Regions from separate parts of the Homo sapiens genome. Here region 1 is linked to region 2. The links come from fine-mapping of genetic effects on gene expression. A gene starts in region 2. The other region holds a variant in brackets. All regions are shown on one strand. Distances are between the middles of the regions. Region 1 has its middle 12 kb from the start of CCN5. Region 2 holds the start of MATN4 (matrilin 4).

Evidence for each region. PIP is the estimated chance that this variant, and not a neighbour inherited with it, causes the effect.
Region 1: its variant is fine-mapped to the expression of MATN4 in minor salivary gland (GTEx, PIP 0.94).

What each region holds. Positions count from the first base shown.
Region 1 is chr20:44,700,564-44,705,929 of GRCh38, forward strand. No RefSeq gene overlaps it. Among named protein-coding and RNA genes, the nearest start is that of CCN5, 12 kb to the right of the region's middle. RefSeq lists an enhancer at 2,234-2,313. The variant G/A (reference allele first, on the strand shown) is at 2,782.
Region 2 is chr20:45,305,596-45,310,961 of GRCh38, forward strand. MATN4 (matrilin 4) reads right to left here and starts at 2,704. Exons shown (of 10, transcript NM_001393530.1): 1 at 2,580-2,704; 2 at 1-21. It overlaps RBPJL (recombination signal binding protein for immunoglobulin kappa J region like), which reads left to right and starts at 1,245. Exons shown (of 12, transcript NM_014276.4): 1 at 1,245-1,349; 2 at 2,548-2,656; 3 at 3,972-4,097. The coding sequence starts at 1,328.

The DNA.
Region 1 (5,366 bases), 610 kb before region 2:
CCTTGCATTGATTATTGTCTTTATGTGACCAGTGTGGTAGCTCAGGTGTCAAGACCTCAAGGCACCCAGCCAGGGTCGCATCTCACGTCTATGGCAGATCCAAGATCTGAACTTGGACTTGTCTGAATCCTGGATAAGCTGGGGGGTGAAGCTGGCTGCTGAGGATCCTGTGTGCCCCTCAGCCCTGTTCCCACCACCTCTGTGCCTCCTCCCTGCTGGCAGCCACTGTGGCCACAATGGGGTTAACCCCAGAGGAAGGCATTGAAGGCGCTGGGGCTGGGGTGGGAAGGAAGGCATATTTCGGGGCTCCAAGGACTTGAAGCCTAGCTGCTCCATGCCCAGGCTCTGGGACCCCCCAATACATGCACACATTGTTTAAAATGAAGTGGAACTCCAGGCAGGCAAGTTTTGATTTAGGGGAGACAGCTCCTCCATGGTAATGATACTGAGCCTTGTTATTTGAGCAAATAGGTTTTCTCCCAGCCTCTCACTCCTTTCTTTGTAATTCATCTTCCATCCTGGCCACATGCAGGCCCTGCTTGGAACTCTCTGGGGACTCCTACCCCACAGGATAGTCTAAAACCCTGCCCCGGTATTCAAGGCTGTTTGCAGATGTTCCTCAACCCCACCACCTGTTGCTCCCAAAATTCACACACCCCAGACCTGCACACCACAGTTGTTGCTATTCCACACACAGGTCGCTGGGAGCAGCGCACGGCCCAGCCCCGCCTTTCTGCAAGTGGATCCCTCTGCCTGGAAAGTCCTCCCTCCCCTCCTCTGGATCCTCCTGGGTCAGGCTGGGTGCTCCTCTGAACTCCCAGGCTGAGGGTTGCTGTGTAATTTGATACTACATTGACATTGCAGGAAGATCATGTATGGCTGAGTAGCTAAAAATGCAGGCTTTGAACTTGGATGTGGGTTCAGCCTCAGCTGTATCTCCCGCCAGCTGTGGGACATTGGGCTGGCGTCTCTGAGCCTCAGTTTGCTTCTCTGAACATAGAATGATACGCCCTACTCCATTAAGGTGCTGAGGGTGAAGGAAACCACGGGCTCAGTGTGGGCAGCTTGGCCAGGGCTCCAAGCGCATCGGGTGTTCATGTAGTCCTTCTAGTGCCAGGCGGTCATTAGCAACTTGGTGCCAGTCTCTGAGCTGGTCTCCAGGACGGAGCAGTGGAGGGACCATGTAGCCCCTGCTCCCACAAACACAGACATTGGACAGCCAATTAGTTACCCCAGTTCGTTACCATGGAGACTATAATTAGGGATTATAGTCACCCTGCCCAAGCGCACAGGCCTCACCTCCCATCCTTGCCTTAGCTTTGAAGCTCCCTGGAGCAGGATCTAAACTGGATTTGTCTCTGTAACCTCAGTTCCTCATTATTCATGGTCGGAATGCTCAGCAAACGTTTAAGTGGAAGAGATTTCCATAACAAACACTTGGGAGTTCAGAGGAGCACGCGGTCCAACCTGAACAGAGCAGGAGGATCTCAGAGGAGGGAGGCCACTAGGTAGGATGCGGCGGCACTAAGGGTAGCACTTAGTTTGTGACAAGGACTGTTCCAAGCACACCACTTGGATCATCTATTAAATTCTCACTTATTTATTTATTTATTTTAAAATTGTGTTTATTTATTTATTTATTTATTTATTTATTTGTTTGTTTTGAGATGGAGTCTCGCTTTCCAGGCTGGAGTACAGTGGCACAATCTTGGTTCACTGCAGCCTCTTCCTCCCAGGTTCAAGCGATTTTCCTGCCTCAGCCTCCCAAGTAGCTGGGATTACAGGCATGTGCCACCACGCCCGGCTAATTTTTGTATTAAGAGATGAGGTTTCGCCATGTTCACCAGGCTGATCTCGAACTCCTGACCTCAAGTGATCTGCCCGCCTTGGCCTCCCAAAGTGCTAGGATTACAGGCTTGAGCCACTGCGCCCAGCCAGTGATCACTTATTTAGATCACTTACTAAAATCATTTAATTATGTCAACACCTCTGTGAAGTATGTACTGTTATCACCATTCCCATTTCATAGATGGGGAAACTGAGGCACAGAAAAGCTAAGTAAACTGCTCAGAGTTACAGAGCCTGCGAGGGCCACAGCCAGAATTCAAACCCAGGCCATCTGCCTCCACAGTCCACTTTCTATGTCCCTCTCCCGAGATGATGTCCCTTTCCCAGGGGTGTCTGGAAAGGGTCTGGCCCCTGGTCCCAGCTCAAGCAGCTGTCCAGGGAAGCCTGAAGACCTGGCCCATCTCCACTGCCCACCGGGCTTCTCTGCGCTCCACTTCCCAGGTGGACTGTGGAGGCAAATAAGGCCCCAGCTGCAGCCTCTGAAGACTCCTGCCAAGCTGGCACTTTGAGGCCTGGGGGTGTCCCAGGGGATCCCAGCCCAGCAGCTGGGCTGACCTCAGGGCCAGTGTTTCCGTAAACACCCGGAGAGCCAGCCCCACGTGGTTGATCTGTGGGTTGCTGGCCAAGAGGGGCTGAGGTTTGGCTGACCTCGTGCGGTTTCTTTCAACAAGGCTACTTCCACCCCCTCCGCCTGGCTGGGCTTCCAGTAATGAAGTGTTTTCTCTGGGGCTAGGGGAGCTGATGGGGCTGGTGGCGTGGGGCACTGGGGTCTTCCTGTCCCACGTGCCCTCCACCCTGGGCTTCTGGAAGCTGGTCTAGATGCCCCTAGCTGCCGCCTGGGCAGCCCATATGCCCACGCCGGTCCCTGATAGTGAACTGGCCCGTAAGGGGACCAGGTCTCGGGATCTGAGCATGGAGCAGGGGCTGCGCCCA[G/A]GAGATAGGGTGTGGCTAGACTTTCCCCTGCTGGTCCTTTCCGGGGATCTGAGGGGAAACTTCTCCTGGGGACACACCCGGGTAGCTCAGAGATGGAAGAAAAGGTCTCCATTACAGCTGCCACCTCTTCCCCACCCAAAGAGAGTGTCCGCAGGGGGCCGTGGGGCAGGAGTGAGTACTGAAGGAATACTAACCACGATCACTGCTACCATCTCCTGAATGTCACTGCCCCAGCCCTTTAATTCTCACAACAAACCTTGGAAACTGAGGCTTAGAGAGAGGAAGTGGCTGGCCCAAGGTCACATAGTGAGTAAATGAGCAGAGCTTCTCCCCCTTTCCCTTGAATCACCTCTATCTTCCTGTCCAGATGCCAGGCAGCAGGAACTAGCAGGTGCTTTTGGGTCATCTTTTAAGAGGCAATATAGCACAATGAGTGAGAGCAGGGACTCAAGGGCCAGCCACCTGGGTTCAAATCCCAGCTCTGCTTCCTACTGGCTATGTGACCTTGGGCAAGTCACTCAACTTCTTGGTTCCTCAGTCTCCCCACCTGTATAATGAGGATAATAATGATGCCTCCTTTAGGGGGTTTCTGTGAGGATTGCATATACACGTGACACATAATAAGCCCTGTGCCATGCTAGTTATCCCAGCCTCTCACTCTTCCCATTGAAAAGGTGAAGACACAGACCCAGAGATGGAGGCAAATTCTGCAGGGGTCATGCCCGGGGCAGAGCATGGTTCAGCTATGTCTCCTATGGTGCTGCCAAGGAGCCACCATGGGCTTGAGCTGAGAGGAGCCACCTGGCACCGGACACGTGACCTCCTCGAGGGAAGGGAGGCTCTGCAGAGAGCAGGGGATGGTGGAGGAGCCTGGCTTTATCTTCCATCCTTCAGGAGCGGGGAAGGGCAGTGTCAGAGCCAGGAGAGGAGAGAAGCGAATGAACGTGCTGTGTGAGCTCCAGTCAGTCCCTACTGACTCTGGGCCTGTCACTCCTGCTGAGGGACTCGGGTGTTTGGACTTTTAGACTTGGAGGGGCTCCTCGGTGGGGCCTTGGGGGCTGCTCTGGGTGAGGGCTCTCACCATTTGCTTCATCCCAAACCACTGTCCTTGGGCCTGTTTTAAATATTAGAGTGTAGCATGGGGTTTTGCTGCTCTAACAAAGGGTCAGCCATCTTGAGAAGGAGGCTCTGTGATGAGCAGGGAATGGGGCTCCCCTGCCCCCCCGAGACCCTGGGGCCCAAGCTGATGACTGGCCAGTGACTCACTCCCTTCTCAGCATGTCCTGTCATCCCATGACTGGGAGCCCCTCGGGGGTGGCTCCTAACCAAGGTCCCCCTGACCAAGGCCTCCCCCCACCCTCCCCCTAACACACATAGAGACTGGGAACAATTAACTCCCTCCTAAGGCCAGACCAGATGTTCACGTGGGCATTGGTTTTGTTGACCACATGTGACTCAGGAGCTCCCTCAGAGCTGGAAGAGTCCCAAGAGGCTAAAAGGGCAACCTGTCACGTCACAGCTGGGAAACTGAGTCCCAGAGAAGCCAGGTGAGTTGCCTAACATCCCTCAGGGGTAGAAGGGAGGAAGGAACCTGGAGTTCCCATGCCTGACCCAGAGGCTTTCTACCTCTCCAAATAGTTCTCGGATGTGCCCAAGGCCTCAGTCCCCATTCCTACCTCCAGTTGCAAATGTCCTCCCCAACTACACAGAGCCTCTCAGCTTCATCCCACCCCACCTCCAACTGGCTCTCATGGTTTCATCCAGGCTCAGCTACTTGCAGCTCCCCAAATAGCTCCTGCTGTCAGGCCACCTCCAGGCCTTTGTACTCTCCTGCTGCTCTGTTTTATTTTCCTCTTCACCTGGACAACTCCTAATCTTGCTCCAAGACTCATCTCAGGTGTCACCTTCTCCAGGAAGCCTTTCAAAACCACCTCCTCCACCTCCCAGGCTGGGTTAGGTCCTCCATCTCTTCACCCTCAGTACCTAGTATCTCCCACTTACTGTGCTGGAATCATCTCTTTGCTTGTCTCTATATTGCCCTCTAGTCTGTGAGCTCATTGTGGACAGAGACCTTAGTTTTTATTCTTAATAGTAGGGAATGACCTATTACATTCGGTGTTTGCTGAATGAATGCATAAGTGGATGGATGGATGAATGAATGAATGGTTGGATGGAAGAATAGATACATGGATGGATGGATTGATGGATGGATGGAATGAGTGACCAAATGGTAGATGAATGGACAAATGGACCGACAAACATGGAAGGATGGATGGATGGACAGATGGATTGATGGACAGGTGGATTGATGGACAGGTGGGTCGATGGGCAGGTGGATGAATAAATCAGGCAGATAATGGCATCTGTAGGGACTCAGACAGTGAGGGCTAAGTCCCTGGAGCCTGGATATCCTGACTGATGAAGGTGCTCTTGGATGGGAAGGGAATAACCTAACCTGTTGTCTTCCTACTCCAAGAGATATTTGGTCCAGAACAAAGCCACCCCTGCCCTGGTGCCTGCTCCCTTCTGACCAACAGGTTCCAACTCAGTGGGGTCTCCTGAACTCTGGTAACTCATCTGACACC
Region 2 (5,366 bases):
AGAGAATGGAGGTGTCAGAGCCTGGAGGGAGGAAGGAAAATAGAAAAGCAACAGTATTTACAGAGCTCTTATTCTGGGTGATAGGCACTTGGAGGGGGAAGACAGTTACAGGTTTATTTTACTAATCTCTCTATTTTTGTGTATGTTTGAAATGTTTCAGAATTAAAAAATTCTCATCACAGTGGGATTGCTGGGAAACACAAGAGATTCTTTTTTTTTTTTTTTTTAGATAGAGTCTTGCTCTGTCGTCCCGGCTGGAGTGCAGTGGCATGATCTCGGCTCACTGCAACCTCTGCCTCCCAGGTTCAAGCGATTCTCCGGCCTCAGCCTCCCGAGTAGCTGGGATTACAGGCTCCTGCCACCACACCTGGCTAATTTTTTGTATTTTTAGTAGAGAGCGGGTTTTGCCATGTTGGTCAGGCTGGTCTCAAACTCCTGACCTCAGGTGATCCTCCCACCTCGGCCTCCCAGAATGCTGGGATTACAGGCGTGAGCCACCGCGCTCGGCCCACAAGAGAATGGTAAATAAGAATAGATACATAGATACAAATATGCAAAATTTAAACAGAAAAAAACAGGTCTTCCTTAAATGTCAGGCACAGTGTTAAATGCTCTTCACGCATTGTGGCATTTAATCCTCTCTGCAATTGTAAGACTAAGGCTGTGATTGTCCCCCATCATACAGACAATGAAATTGAGGCTCAGAAAAGTTAAGCGCTGGTACCCAAAGTCATTCGGCCAAAAAGTGGCTGCGGCAGGATACAATCCCACGCCTGCTAGTTTCTGTGAGCCAGCCTGGGCGTTTGGTGCCTCTCCTCCTGCCAGGCGAACCTCTGCAGACAGAAGCCCTTCCCCACCTCGGCCCACTCCCCTACGCACACAGGCTTCTGTGTGGCTGTCTTTGCAACTCGCCAACCCCCCCAGACCCCTCCACACACACAAACACAGACATGCACTGCCCAACCGCAGGCGGCAGGGAGGGGCTGCGCCCTGTTGCGGGGCTGAGCGTGGTGGCGTGGCAGCGAGTGGACCAAAACCCACTGCGCACGAGAACGCGCGGCTTGGCGCCTGTTTCCCGCCTGCTCTCAGGAGCGACCGCCAGGGGGCGCCCGAGATGGCAGGGGGCGTGGGAAGCCCACATCTGCCCAGCAGGTGCGCCCACCCCGAGCAAACAGGGGGCCGGGGCCCGGGGCCTTGGAGATAAGGCCTGGACAGGATATAACCCGCGCAAGAGCCGAGGAGCAGGGGTGTGCAGGGTTCCAGCGACAGCAGCACTGGACTCGTCCAGAGGGCGGCGGGTGAGCGGCTGGGGCCCCGTGGAGCCACCATGGACCCCGCAGGGGCAGCAGGTGAGCGCTTACCCTCCCGAGGCCCCGGAGACGCCCCGTGAGAACTACGAAGGACCACCCCCCCACCCCCTCCCCACTATACAAATAGGAAAACTAAGCCCCAAGGAGGCAGCCCGCCGAACTGCAAAAGCAGGATTAGAACCTAGGGCTCCTGGTTCCCCTTCTCTCTCTTGAGGCCCCCTGGCGCCTAGAATTCACTAAACCTCATTTCCTTCCAGCTCCTACCCCACCGCCGCGCCCCATGCTGAAGCTGTGTTAGCCATTTTTCTGTTGCTGTTTCTTGGCAGAGAGGGCCAGCTGCCCCTAACCCAACAGCAGCTCCGCCCCCGCCCCCCAATTCCGTGAATGCGCCTATTCTGAGCGAGGCCAGTGCCTGCTTCTCACTCCAGGCGACCTTCTCATCCCGGATTCTTCTCCCTTTTCCCCTCCCAGGCCTGGTAGAAGAACATAAATCCTCTGGCAGGGCCCGTCGTGGGAGGGTGACCAAGCAAGATGTGGCAGCGCTGGTGGAAGTGGGAGGGCGGGGAACCCTTGTCAAGCTTGGGCCACAGGCAAAGCCAACATCCCTGGACAGCATGAGGGCTAAGGCACAAGGGGCCTCTGCCACCTCCCATACTTTCCTACCCGGAGATGCCTCTGGGCCCCTAAATCTTGGTTAAGGTTCCCCTCATCCCATTCTTGGTCTGAGCCAACTTCTCACCTGGCACCCTGCCTCCACCCCAGGAATCCTAGAAAGTCAAAATAGCAAATGCCTCAAAGTTCATCACCTTTCCAAACCCCTCATTCTACAAAGAAAGGAACTAGGTCCAGAGAGGGTAGTGTCTTGCTGAAGGGTACATGGCGATGTCGTGGCAGGACTGATACTAGAACCTGGGATTCCTCTGAGGAGTTAATCCTTGCATTAAAAAAAGAAAGATTCAGAGATGCCCTGAGGTGAGGTTGAGGGAGTGGAGCAGCAAGGGAGGAGAGGCCTGTAAATAAATTCTCAAAAGTCCCTTAGGGACATTTCAGGGGGTTCCTGGAGGGATGAGAGTAGAAAAGGGATGATCCTATTTTGATGGCTTTGAGGGTGGGGGCTCGATTTGGAAAGGACCCTGCAGAAGTGGGGAAGGGCACTGCAAATCAGATAGGGCACCCTAGGCAGCGTCTCTGCTAAAATACACTCGCCTGACCTGGCTTGATGCCTACTCCCCTGCAGACCCCTCAGTGCCTCCCAATCCTTTGACTCACCTGAGCCTGCAGGACAGATCAGAGATGCAGCTGCAGAGCGAAGCCGACAGGCGGAGCCTCCCGGGCACTTGGACCAGGTAACGGCGGCGTGGCAGCGTGCCCTAGGTGGGGACTGCCAGGCAGCTGGAGCACACAGAGGCAACGGCCGCATTTAACCCAGGGCTGGCGGGTGGGGAGGGGAAGTGCAGGCTGCAACCCCTCCCACTGGCAGGGAGGGATCCCCCCTTCCTCCTGAGGGGGGGCAAACCCAGCACCCCCTGCTCCTACCACGCTTGGAGCTGCAGACAGGGCTAGCTGCGGGCCAGGCTGGAATTCAGCTACAGCGGGAGACTGGGGAGACCGGGGCAGCCACACTCCACAGCCGGAATTCATTGGAAGCTTAGAAGGCACTTCCCTGAGGAGAGCCCCAAGGGGTGGAGCGGTCCTGGCTGTGGCTGCTGCCTGTCTGGCCTGGCTTTCGAGGGTGCGGTCTTGCGCTGTCCCCTCCAGGAGTGAGGAGAGACTCTGGTCCTGCCAAGAGGAATAAGGGCTCAGAAGGACAGCCTCAGTTTTCATGGCTCTCCTTGGGCCTCAACCTGCTAACCCCCCAAATCTCTCCCACCTCCCCTCCTCTACTTGCTCCCTGCAATTGCTCGGGCCTACCCACCCACACCGCTCAAGACCCCCAGGTTAAGAAGCCACCAGACCTCTAGGCTCTAACCTGGCTCACTCTGCAGGACCAATGTCATCTGCCTTGACTCCTGTAATCAAGGGTAGGAAAGCCCACACAGCAACAGGCCACTTCTCATGGGAGAAAGGGAAGAATATGGCTTTGGCCCCAGAAAGGCTCAGATTCCCCCAGGCCATCCCCCATCCTGAGGACAAGGTTTTGGGCCCTTTTCTGTTTGCAGGCAGGAGGCTAGAGAGCGCTCCAGGCCAGGAGCCCAGGAAAGGCTCTCCCTTCCCCTCCCTCCTCACCCCCCACCCTGCCTTCCCCAGGGTGGGGAAGCTTCATCTCTACCAATTCCATCAGCCCTAAAATACTCTTCTCCATCCCAAGGCCAGTATAAGTGCAGCCTTTGTGTCACAGCCACGTGTCCCTATGGCCCTGGGCTCCAATGGGCATGATGCCAGACCCACAGAGTGGAACCTGGGTGGTCCCATGGGTTCCATGCAGGCTTCGTTGAGCACCTTGCAGCCTAAATATTTAGCCTACAATTTGCAGCCAAGTCTCCTCCTTACCTAATGCTTCCTCTTCCTGACCCCACAGGGGCAGGATATAGAGCAGCCCCACCCTCCCACTCACTCTAACCCCCTGCTCACTTCATTTTACTCAACCTGAGTGCTTGGACCCTGTGCCACCTTGACCCTTCTCCCTCCTGTGGCTGGTCGACCTGCCTGCCCTACTCCCAGGTCATCCCCAGAGCACACCACCATTCTGAGGGGAGGCGTGCGCAGGTGCCTGCAGCAACAGTGTGAACAGACTGTGCGGATCCTGCATGCCAAGGTGGCCCAGAAATCATACGGAAATGAGAAGCGGTAGGTGCCTCCGCAGCCCCTCCCAGGTCTCTGCAACTGTCAGCCCTATGCACCTCCTCCATCCACCCATTGGGCCTCTTTTAGACGCAGAGCAGGCCTCAGGGCTGAGATCTCAGCTATTGGTCGACCAGGGCCTTGACCCTCAGCCACCATTAGCCCCCACTTTGGTCTATAGTTCTACAGCAGGAGATTCCCTGTGAATCTCCTGTCTCCATTCATTCACTCATTCTCCCATTGATTCACTTATTCATTCATTCAACAACTACTTACTGAGTGTTTGTCATGTATGCACCAGGCTCTGTGGGTACTGCTGGGCACTGGGCATACAGCTGAACAAGACAGAAACAGCCCCTGCTCTGTAGCCCACACTCTCACTCAAGTGTGGAAGAGACAGACAGTAAACTCCCCACAAGTCAGGAAACAAGATACTTGCAGATTATGATGAGCACTAGAAGGAAAACTGAACGAGGCCATTTGACGGAAACTGAAGGCAGGGGGGACATTAGCTAGAAAGGTCAAGGAGGTTGAGAGACCTTTTGGGAGGTAACATTGGAACTGAAACTTGAATGCTGAAATGGAGCCAGACAGGAGAATATCTGGGGAAAGCGTGCTACAATTAGAAGGAACAGAAGGGCCGGGCGCGATGGCTCACACCTGTAATCCCAGCACTTTGGGAGGCCGAGGCGGGCGGATCACCTGAGGTCAGGAGTTCGAGACCAGCCTGGCCAATACAGTGAAACCCCCTCTCTACCAAAAAATACAAAATTAGCTGGGCATGGTGGCGGGCACCTGTAATCCCAGCTGCTCAGGAGGCTGAGGCAGGATAATTGGTTGAACCCGGGAGGCGGAGGTTGCAGTGAGCCGAGATCATGCCACTGCACTCCAGCCTGGCGACAGAGCAAGACTCAGTCTCAAAAAAAAAAAGGGCAACAGAAAATGGGAAGACCTTGAGGCTGTACCAATTAGGCCTGTTTGAGGTACAAAAGAAATGACAGTGGCTGAAATCAGAGGGAGGAGTTGTAGGAAACAAGTCAGAGAGGTAAGCAGGGGTCAGATCTCAGGAGGACTTTGAATTTTAAACCAGTGGAGGATTTTAAGGAGTTAACATGATTTGACTCATGTTTTTAACAAAACACTCTGGCCAGCCTGGTGGCTCATCCCTGTAATCCCAGCACTTCGGCAGACCCAGGTGGGCAGATTGCTTGAGCCCAGAAGTTCCAGACCTGCATGGGCAACATGACAAAACCATGTCTGTACAAAAAACACAAA